Regions from separate parts of the Homo sapiens genome. Here region 2 is linked to region 1. A link means that fine-mapping ties the variant in region 1 to the expression of a gene that starts in the linked region. Tissue or cell type: whole blood. Region 1 holds a variant in brackets; the other region holds the start of a gene. All regions are shown on one strand. Distances are from middle to middle.

Region 1 (5,391 bases):
TTCAGGTACACATTGGTTTTGTACATTTTAGGGAGACACGAGGCTTCAATCAACTATAAACATTTACTGATTGGCAATTGGTTGAGTTTATCTAAAGGTCTGGAATCAATAGAAAAGAAATGTCTGGGTTGTGGTAAGAGGTTGTAGAGACCAAGGTTTTATCATGCAAATGAAGCCTCCAGACAGCAGACTTGAGAGAGACTTAAGTATTAATGCCTGAGAGATATAATGAAGCGTGTTCGACACGCACTTCCTGTCATGGCCTGAACCCATCTCTCAGGTTAAATTTTCAAAGAGCTGTGGTTGAAGAGGGAGTCCATTCAGATGGTTGAGGGGCCTTAGAATTTCATTTTTGGTTTACACTCCCCACACAGCTACATTTCTGCCTGCACATAGCTACATTCCTTCCTCACTATATAACCTCCCAATTTTAGTTTGTTGGAGAACAAAGCCAGAATAAAGCCAATCCTAGTCATAGCATTGCAACTTGTATCAGATGAAAGAAACCTACAAAAAGATAATTATAAAATTTAGATAAAATGTATAAAACAACTGAGAAGGCAAAATTTGAGGGGCTCCAATTAATCAAGGTTTACCGCTTATATTCTGTGTGACTGCCAGAAAAAAAGAAACAAAACTTTTTGGTAGGAAGATCATTTAAAATTTCTGTTTTTAATACATAAGGCCTGTTATTTAATAAAAAATTATGAGACAACCTAAAAAAAAAGAATTAAATATCAAAACACCAATTGACAAGCCAAATGATAAAAACTGGCCTACATATGGTTCAGAAAATGATTTCAATAAATCTACTCTTCACCATTCTAATCCCTTTGCAGTGCCCTAGGATGGTGACTGACTCTCATGTATAATATCCCTGGACACTATTGTCCTGAAGCTCTAGGTATGTTTGTGCTAATAGGAAGAATAGGCAAAAGATTTAAAGGTGGGAGAATCCTTCCCTACAGCACTAGGAAATGGATATGGAGTTGTTCTCGCTGAGTGTACCTCCAGGGAGGCAGCCTTCATCAGCTATAGTTTCTGCTGCTTCAGTTAATTGCTACCAGCAATGTTCTCTCAGGCCTAATGTAGTAATGGCTTCCGGCAGTAGCTAGCCCTGGGGTATTTCACTATCCCTCATGGTTTCCTTTGGTCTTATCTCTATCTTGTAAATTGTCCTGTTATTTTATCTTCTTAAATTTTCCTTTTAATGTATAACCGGTTTTTTCTTTTTTTTTTTTTTTTTTGGATCCCAAGTGTGTGTTTCTTTTTGGTACCTGAGTATATCACTGTCACTGTGGTCTCTCAACTTTTAAATTATGTGACTCTGAAGGTGTGTGTCTCCAAATTTTTATCCCTGTGCACTTTTCTTCACCTGTCTTCATTTCTTTCCCTTTTTTCCGTTATAACTTTCACTCACATCCGTGTGAAGAGACCACCAAACAGGCTTTGTGTGAGCAACAAGGCTGTTTATTTCACCTGGGTGCAGGTGGGCTGAGTCCGAAAAGAGAGTCAGCGAAGGGAGATAGGGGTGGAGCTGTTTTATAAGATTTGGGTAGGTAGTGGGAAATTACAGTCAAAGGGGGCTTGTTCTCTGGCGGACAGGAGTGGGGGCCACAAGGTGCTCAGTGGGGGAGCTTTTGAGCCAGGATGAGCCAGGAGAAGGAATTTTATAATGTCATCAGTTAAGGCAGGAACAGACCATTTTCACTTCTTTTGTAGTGGAATGTCATCTGTTAAGGCAGGAACCGGCCATCTGGATGTGTATGTGCAGGTCACAGGGGATAGGATGGTTTAGCTTGGGCTCAGAGGCCTGACATTCCTGTCTCCTTATATTAATAAGAAAATAAAAATGAAATAGTGGTAAAGTGTTGGGACGGCAAAAATTTTGGGGGCTTGGTATGGAGAGATAACGGGCGATATTTCTCAGGGCTGCTTCCAGCGGGATTAGGGGCGATGTGGGAACCTAGAGTGGGAGAGATTAAGCTGAAGGAAGATTTCATGCTAAGGGGTGATATTGTGGAGTTGCTAGAAGAAACATTTGTCATTTAGAATTATTCGTGATGGCCTGGATACGGTTTTGTATGAATTGAAAAACTAAACAGAATAAGAGAAGGAGAAAAACAGGTATTAAAGGACTAAGAATTGGGAGGACCTAGGACATCTAATTAGAGAGTGTCCAAGGGGGTTCAGCATAATTACTTACTTGGTTGGCAAGTTTTTGGGCTCTATCCTTGAGTTTTTTATGTTGTCATACACCAGGCCAGATTGATTTAGGTAG[AAAC/A]AACACTCTTCATTTAAGAATATACAGAGTCCTCCTTTTTCAGCAGTGACTAAGTCAAGGCCTCAGCGGTTTTGGAGGACAACTGCAGCTAAAGAGTCAACTTGGGCCTGGAGGACTGATAAAGTTTGTGATATGTCTGTGATGCTAGCAGAGAAGACACTAGAGAGGCTATGGAAGGTCGTGACAGAGGTTGAAATGCCTCCTATTCCAGTACCGAGAGCAATAGTGGAGGCAGAAAGTCTTAAACTGATAAGCAAGGGAATTAGTGGAATAACTCTTTTTTGTCGTGTCGGTGTCATGAGGGGAACAGGGAGCTCTTCGGTCCTATTTGCAAATTGAATTTTAGGAGTAAGGAAAACTAGTGTGCATGTACCTGTCCAATTAGCAGGTAGACACATGGAGGTAGAGGATCCACAGAGGAAGAAGAGACCTTGTGCGAGGCAAAACTGGAGAAGCAAAGTAAAAAGATGAGAAGGAGTGCTGAAAGGGGTGTCTTGTACCCAGACTCCTGGGGATCCAGCTAGGGCAGCAGCCATCAGAGGTTGTAATGGGGACTGGTGGGGTAACTGCGTAGAGGGGGAGGTTCGATTTTCATGGTGTATGAGAAAATGTTGAGTGTCTATGAGCTACCTTTCACTGTTATTTATGGGGCTGGGTATAAGTAAACAACAAGAGGGCTTTGGAGATGAAGAGTAAAGGAACATCAAAGTGAAAGGTTACCCAGGGGAATTCCAGTGGGTCTTTGCTGAGAGATACATAAAGGAGCAGCCACAGGAATAGTAGTTTGTGTTGTGAGAGGTAAATACGGGGGGAGTAGAGTTGATACAAGGAGAAAGGTTTTTTAAGTAAGTGTGGAGGAGGGCGGCAGCTTGCTGACGTGAAATGTCTGGGGAGGTCTAGCTGGACCTGTCTAGAAAGTAAATGAGTTCATCAGGAGGGTAAAGGTGAGGGCTGTTAAAGGAAGTTTGGAGGTGTAGGAGACAGGAGATGTTGCCTAGTCTGCATGTAAGGTGGGGACAGCTGTGTAGGCATTGGAAGAAAGGGAAATGCAAAGCTAGAGTTTGTTCGCTAAGGAGGGATTAGAAACAGCTAGGAGAGAATGAGTAATGTTTATAGTGTGGTGGAGATAGCTGGGGAGAGGTAGAGGGTGGCATAAGAATGGGAATGAGAATAAGATTGAGTATAAAAGTAAAGAATAGAACTTCATCAGGGTGAAAGTATTGGAGGGTCCCCTGCCAGCAAAGATTATCTATCCCCTCTGAGAGGGAGTTAAGAGTTGCCAGTCCTGGGTGGGGGCAAATCCTCGAGCTTGATGTGTAGGGAAAGGAGGGGGCCTGAATAATCTATGAGGAGGAGTAGAATAGTAGATGGAACAGAAGTTATTTCCTTGAGGATAGATTTCCACGATGGAAAGGAAATGAGAGGTTCTAAGAGGTGGGCTGGTGACTTGTACTATAGCATAGCCTGCCTTTGCTGGTGTGTGGCGATTAGGCCTGGTGGAACTACTATGAATAAACTAAGTGTGTTCAGGGTGAGGAACACGAAAGAAGGAAATATGAGGAAAAGGGGTGAATGTCAGGTGAATCAGAGAGATACAGTCATAGGGGTCAGGTGTGGTATCCAGAATACTGTGGGAGGCTGGATTGAAGTCTGGGCCAGGAACAATGGTAATTGTCAGAGACTTAACAAAAAGGGAGTGTAGCTGAAGGAGCCAGGGAGCAGAAAGTGTATGCGTCAGGTGGGAGAAAGAAAATAGATTTTGGAAATTATGAGAACCGTAGAGAATGAGTTGGGCATAGTTTGTGATTTTTTGGGCCTCTAAAAGTATTAAAGCAGCGGCAGCCACTGCATGCAGACATGAGGGCTAGGCTAAAATGGTAAGGTCAAGTTGTTTGGACAGAAAGGCTACAGGGTGCGGTCCCAGCTCTTGTGTAAGAATTCTGACTGCCCTAACCATGCCTAGGAAGGAAAGGAGTTGTTGTTTTGTAGAAGGGATTGGGGTTTGGGAAATTAGCCGGACATGATCAGCAGGGAGAGCACATGTGTTTTTATGAGAATTATGCTGAGATAGGTAAGAGATGAGGAAGAAATTTGGGCTTGACTGAAGTAATGGGGGCTGTCTGTGAAGCCTTGCGGCAATACAGCCTAGGTAATTTGCTGAGTCTGATGGGTGTCAGGGTCAGTCCAAGTGAAAGTGAAGAGAGGCTGGGATGACGGGTGCAAAGGAATAGTAAAGAAAGCATGTTTGAGACCCAGAACAGAATAATGGGTTGTGGAGGGAGATATTGAGGATAGGAGAGTATATGGATTTGGCACCATGGGGTGGTTAGGCAAAACAATTTGGTTGATAAGGCACAGATCCTGAACTAACCTGTAAGCCTTGTCTGGTTTTAGGACAGGTAAAATGGGGGAATTGTAAGGGGAGTTTATAGGCTTTAAAAGGCCATGCTGTAGCAGGAGAGTGATAATAGGCTGTAATCCTTTTAAAGCGTGCTGTGGGATAGGATATTGGCATTGAGCGGGGTAAGGTGATTAGGTTTTAATGGGATGGTAAGGGGTGCAGGATCAGTCGCTAAGGAGGCAGTAGAGGTGTCCTATACTTGTGGGTTAAGGTGGGGAGATACAAGGGGAGGATGTGAAGGAGGCTTTGACCTGGGGGAAAAGGTGGCAATGAGGTGTGGCTGTAGCCTAGGAATAGTTAGGGAAGCAGATAATTTAGTTAAAGTGTCTCAGCCTAATAAGGGAACTAGGCAGGTGGGGATAACTAAAAAGGAGTGCTTAAAAGAGTATTGTCTAAGTTGGCACAAGAGTTGGGGAGTTTTAAGAGGTTTAGAAGCCTGGCCATCAGTACTTACAACAGTTATGAAGGCAAGGGAAACAGGCCTTTGAAAAGAAGGTAATGTGGAGTGGGTAGCCTCCGTATTGATTAAGAAGGGGACGGGCTTACCCTCCACTGTGAGAGTTACCTAGAGTGTCTGTGATGGTCCTGTAGGCTTCTGAGGTGATTGGGCAGTGACAGTCTTCAGTTGTTAAGCCGAGAAGATCTGGGAAGGAGTCAGTCAGAGAGCCTTGGGGCAGAGTTCCAGGGGCTATGGGAGTGGCTGCCG
Region 2 (5,391 bases), 32 kb before region 1:
TAGCATTGTACTACACTATTGCTAAACAGTAGTAGTTACAGTGAACATTTTTTTCTTGTTTTTAATCTTAAATGGAATGTTTAAATTTTCATTATTAAGCACTGTAAAAATGCTGTATAAATTTAACATACAACATTAGCAATTTAAAAAAGAATTTTTCTATTCCTAGTTTCTTAACAGGGACTTATCTCAGATAGACATTGAATGTTATCATGTTTCCTTGTTGTTATCAAATGCACTTACTGAATAATTGTGTGGACTTTCTTTCAAAAAATTTTAATATTTTTTGCACTGATATTCTGATATCTAAGCATTCCTAACATAAATCCACTTGTATATGAATTTTTAACTGCTTTGTTGTATATAGTAAATAAATATTTTCTTGGAATTTCTACTTCTAATTTCATAAGAAGATGAGTCTGTTTCTTTTTGTCTTGTTCTGACTTTGTTTGGAAATCAAAAAGTCTATTAAATCGGGGTAAATTTCTCATTTTGCTGTTTTTTGAAGCAAGATGTCCAATACAAAAATTAGCTATTTCTTGAAAGATCAGTAGATTACTCTATTTTAGTTGCCTTTTCAATGTATTTATTTTTAATTTCTATAATTCTATAATTATTTATTTCTTCTCATTACATTTTGGCATTTTATATTTTTTAGACCTCTACCTTCTTTTTTTAATATTTATAAGCGCATTAGTGTTTTAGTTTGCTAGGCCTGCCGTAACAAGTTGTCACAAACTGGGCGGCTAAAATTAACAGGAATGTATTGTCGTACAGTTCTGGAGACAAGAAGTCTGAAATTAAGATGTTGGTCGGATGGGTTCCTTGTGAGGCCTGTAAGGAAAGAATCTGTTCCAGGCCATTCTCCTTGGCTTGAAGATGGCATTCTCCCTGTATATGGATCCGTCTCTAAATTTTCCTTTTTTATGAGAACACCAGTAATATTAAATTAGGTCCCAACCTACCGACCTAATTTTAACGTGGTAAAGACACTATCTCCAAACCAGATCACATTCTGAGGTAGAGGGGGTTAGAGCCTCAATATATAAAATTTTAAGGGAACAGAGTTTGCCCCATAATAATTGATGAATTATTTCCATAATGTTTTATTAAATTTTAATATTTGTGGTTTTTGTGATTATTTGTACTTTTTTGATATTTTCTTTATTGTATCGTCTTCTGCAAACTTTTAGACATCTAGTTCTCTCGTCTTTTCTAATAGCCACCATTTGATTTGTTATCCCTCTCATTTCTTCTCTTTTTCACTAACGTCTCCTATTATCTCATTTTTTAATTTTGTATATTTTTCTTTCACTCTATTGTGCCAGATGCATGTTTTTTTCTTATCTATTTTGTTTGTACACTTTTGAAGTTTCAGTTTGAGGTATTTGGCTTTTATTAGTTTTAGAAGTTGGAATATTATTTCTTCAAATATTTCCTATCCGCTATTCTTTTTTTCTCTCTCTCTGTTTCAGATTCTTGTTATCTAGAAGGTGGCATTTCTACTTCTATTTTTCATATCTCTCAGCTTTTATTTTATATTTTCTAACTGTTTTCTTTTCTGTCATGTTTTTAATAGCATCTCCTAGGTCTTATTCATTCTTAATCAGCGTCCATTCTATTAATTAACTCCTCAAAGTGTTCTTTATTTCAAACACTATATTTCTATAATTATTATTTTCACTTGGTTTTTATTGTGTTCTTGGTGCTTCTTCATTTCATTAATATCTTTTCTTTTGGAGCATTTTTATTATGCTTTAATTAAATTCTCAGACTAGATGTTCTAATGATTCCTGCAGCCCGGCTTTCTCATAATCTTCCAGTACATGCTTCACAGTACTTCATATTTTGTCTTCTCGTTATGCAATGAGATAAATTTTCTTCCACTTTTTACTCTCTAAACTCTTAAATCTGTTACCCAGACAAGCCTGACTAATTTATTTGGCTAAAGGGATGGAATCTTATTTCTTTTTGTAATACTAATGTCCAATTGTGTAAAATGTAGACTAATTTTTAAAAATTTTCTTATGAAGTTTTCATAGATCAAGAGTTCGTAACTATGACCAATAGTTAGAATATACAACGAAGTAAATTTAACCTTACCCTAAAGAAACTTCTAAATAGAACATCCTTAAATTAAAATGGAAAGTCTTCTAAGACAGAGAGATATTATCACTGAAAACATTCTAGTATAGGCTGCTAGAAATGCTGTAGCTAGAAATCGTATGGTAGATGAAAAGTTTTACTAGGTAGCTACTGAGGTCTCTTCAACCTTTAAGAGTATCAGGCTTACTTATTATTAAAAGAATTATCCCAATTGCCCTGGGAATTCATATCAGTAAACTCTGATAGTGGTTTCAGCTGGAGTCCTTAACTCATTTCAAGATTTTACTTTTTATCTCTTCACTGTCTTTATCTTAAAGTTTTGGCAGGCTTCCTATTCCAGTCATTTGGCATACAATTCATTCGTTTTCTTTAACATAAACCCTCAGAACTATTGTGAATGGAGGGTGTTTGTATGTGTACCTTGTTTTTATTTATTGGTTTGTTTATGTTTCAATCCACTGAAAACAAACTTCATTGTTGGCCTTAGCTGAATCTTAAAATTTTTGAAAAGTTCTTTTCAGTCTTATGAAGTCACAATCATCAAGCCTCCTTCCAGAGTGAAGCATTTGCTTTTTATTCTGTATAAAAGTGTTAAGCAATTTTTTCCCTGTGAAAGTACATTTTAAAAATATTCTTATTGAGATATAATACACGTACCATAAAATTCTGCCCCAAAACCTTCTTACACACAAGCTTATACCCTCTCTTGCAGACATAAAACTCTACATGCTCTAACAGGCTTCCACAATTCTCCGGAAGTGCTTCCCCATCCCTCACTTACTTTAGTAGACTTTCACAGTAAGTAAAGAGTCCATATTTTTAAGCTGTCCTGTATTTTGTTTTATCTTTCCTTTACTTCCTTCTCATTCACTCTATAAAACTTACCTATCCGATGTATGAAGCCATCAGCTCTGCCATCCCGCAGCTCTGGATTAATCATGGCAAGGCGCTAACCGATGGAGATCAGTAGGAGAGGACTAGAAAGCTTTTCATGTACATCACTTATTTAGGCACTGAGCAAGCTTCAGTCAAAAGAGACTTAACCAATCCAAATGGAAAACATCAGTACTAATTTTAGATCAAAGATAAAAGTAGGCAGACTTGTTAGTTTAAGGAAGGAATTTAAAAATTAACTCATCCATAACAAAAGGATCGTAAAGTCAATCATGTAAACACCACAACAACCGTGCTATGGAACATTTCCATCATCTTTCTTTTTTTCCTTGTGTAATCACTATCTTTTCTGACCCTGGACCCTGGCAAGCATTACTTTGCTTTATATCAACATAGTTTTTCCTTTCATGGAATTTTTTTTTTTTGAGGCAGGGTCTCACTGTGTTGCCCAGGCTGGAGTGCAGTGGGGAAAACTTGGCCCATTGCAACTTTGACCTCCTTGGCTCAAGCAATCCTCCTGCCCTACCCACCCAAGTAGCTGGGACTACAGTCGCGCACCATCATGCCCTGCTAATTTTATTTTTTGTAGAGACTAGGTCTCATTATATTGCCCAGACTGGTCTTGAACTCCTGGGCTTAAGTGATCTTCTGGCTTCAGTCACCCAAAGTACTGGGATTACAGGCATGAGCCACCACGGCCAGCCCCTTTCATAGAATTTTATATAAATGGTATCATATAATATGTAGTGTCTTGTCTCTTGCTTATTTCATTTATAATACTTTTGAGATTCACTCAAGTTGTTGTGCAGGTAAGTAGTTCATTCCCTTTTATTTCTTAGTAGTATTCCTATTGCATGTTATACCAGAAATTATCTCTTTGATCACTAGTTGATGGACTTTTGTTTCTAGGGTGGGACTGTTATGTATGAAACTGCTGTACACAGGCATTTTTGTGTGAGCAAGTTTTCTCTTGGATAAATTCCCAGAAATTGAATTGCTGCATCATATAAGTATGTTTATCTTTATAAAAAGCTGTAAAACTGGCTGGGCGCGGTGTCTGTCACCTGTAATCCCAGCACTTGGGGAGGCCGAGGCGGGTGGATCATGAGGTCAGGAGATCGAGACTATCCTGGCTAACACAATGAAACCCCGTCTCTACTAAAAATACAAAAAATTAGCCGGGCCTGGTGGCGGGTACCTGTAGTCCCAGCTACTCGAGAGGCTGAGGCAGGAGAATGGTGTGAACCCGGGAGGCGGAGCTTGCAGTGAGCCGAGATCGTGCCACTGCACTCCAGCCTGGGCAACTGAGCAAGACTCCGTCTCAAAAAAAAAAAAAAAAAATTTGCTTCAGCCTGGAATCTTTGCTTTTGGTGCTTCGGTGCAGAGACAGAAAACGGGCACTCAGAGTCACACTGGTAGTTGCACACTGTATCTGCAGAGGGCGTGTCTCATCTGTACCCCGCTGGGTTACGGGATTTCAGGAGGTATTTTTGTCCACCTGCGAATTCCATTTATTACCTTTCATTTAACAGACAATGTCTTTCCTTTCTGCAGTTGATTTTGCTAAAGAGGCAATTCATAAGGTGAGGTCCTACTCATAGTATGACTTGCTTTCTCACGACCTCCTTCCATTTTTAGTAACTCCCTGGTCTATTTGGTGTCTGTAAAAAAAGAATCTGGTAATGGAGACTTCTTTTAATATGGAAATTTGGCCTGGCAATAACTTATTCCTTTCCACATGTAACTGACCCAATCTGGTTTCCAGATGACAAGTATGCAAGCCCCAGATGTTGAGAAGCCATATTTCAACTGCTTCCTGCATCTGTTGAAATATAATTGTTCATACTTGCCATCCCTTATGTTTCTTGTAACAATTTGCACAGTTCTTGCCAGAATAAATGCCATTCTCTGTATGCTTCAGAGAATTCCGCAATTTGATCAGTGTGTGTGTGTGTGTGTGTGTGTGTGACCTTCCGTAAAACACTTCTAAAGGGTGAAAGCTCTTGTATGGCATAGACATGAATTCCTTCCTCTGGTAATAATTAGGTTATTTCCAGAAGCACAGTGTCATTTTTTTTTTTTTTTTGAGATGGAGTTTCTCTCCTGTGGCCCAGGCTGGAATGCAATGGTGTGATCTCGGCTCACGCAACTTCCACCTCCTGGGTTCAAGTGATTCTCCTGCCTCAGCCTCCTGAGTAGCTGGGATTATGGGCATGCACCACCATGCCTGCCTAATTTTGTATTTTTAGTAGAGACGAGGCTTCTCCATGTTGGTCCAGCTGGTCTCGAACTCCTGACCTCAGGTTATCCACCCGCCTCGGCCTCCCAAAGTGCTGGGATTACAGGTGTGAGCCACCATGCCCAGCCCATTCTTTAAATAAAAGCTTTCCT

What was found.
Region 2: CLEC2A starts here. The variant in region 1 is fine-mapped to the expression of CLEC2A in whole blood (TOPMed, PIP above 0.99).

What each region holds. Positions count from the first base shown.
Region 1 is chr12:9,961,025-9,966,415 of GRCh38, forward strand. It overlaps a transcript of CLEC12A not described here. Among named protein-coding and RNA genes, the nearest start is that of CLEC12A, 7.7 kb to the right of the region's middle. The variant AAAC/A (reference allele first, on the strand shown) is at 2,282.
Region 2 is chr12:9,929,284-9,934,674 of GRCh38, forward strand. CLEC2A (C-type lectin domain family 2 member A) reads right to left here and starts at 3,087. Exons shown (of 5, transcript NM_001130711.2): 1 at 2,992-3,087. The coding sequence starts at 3,046.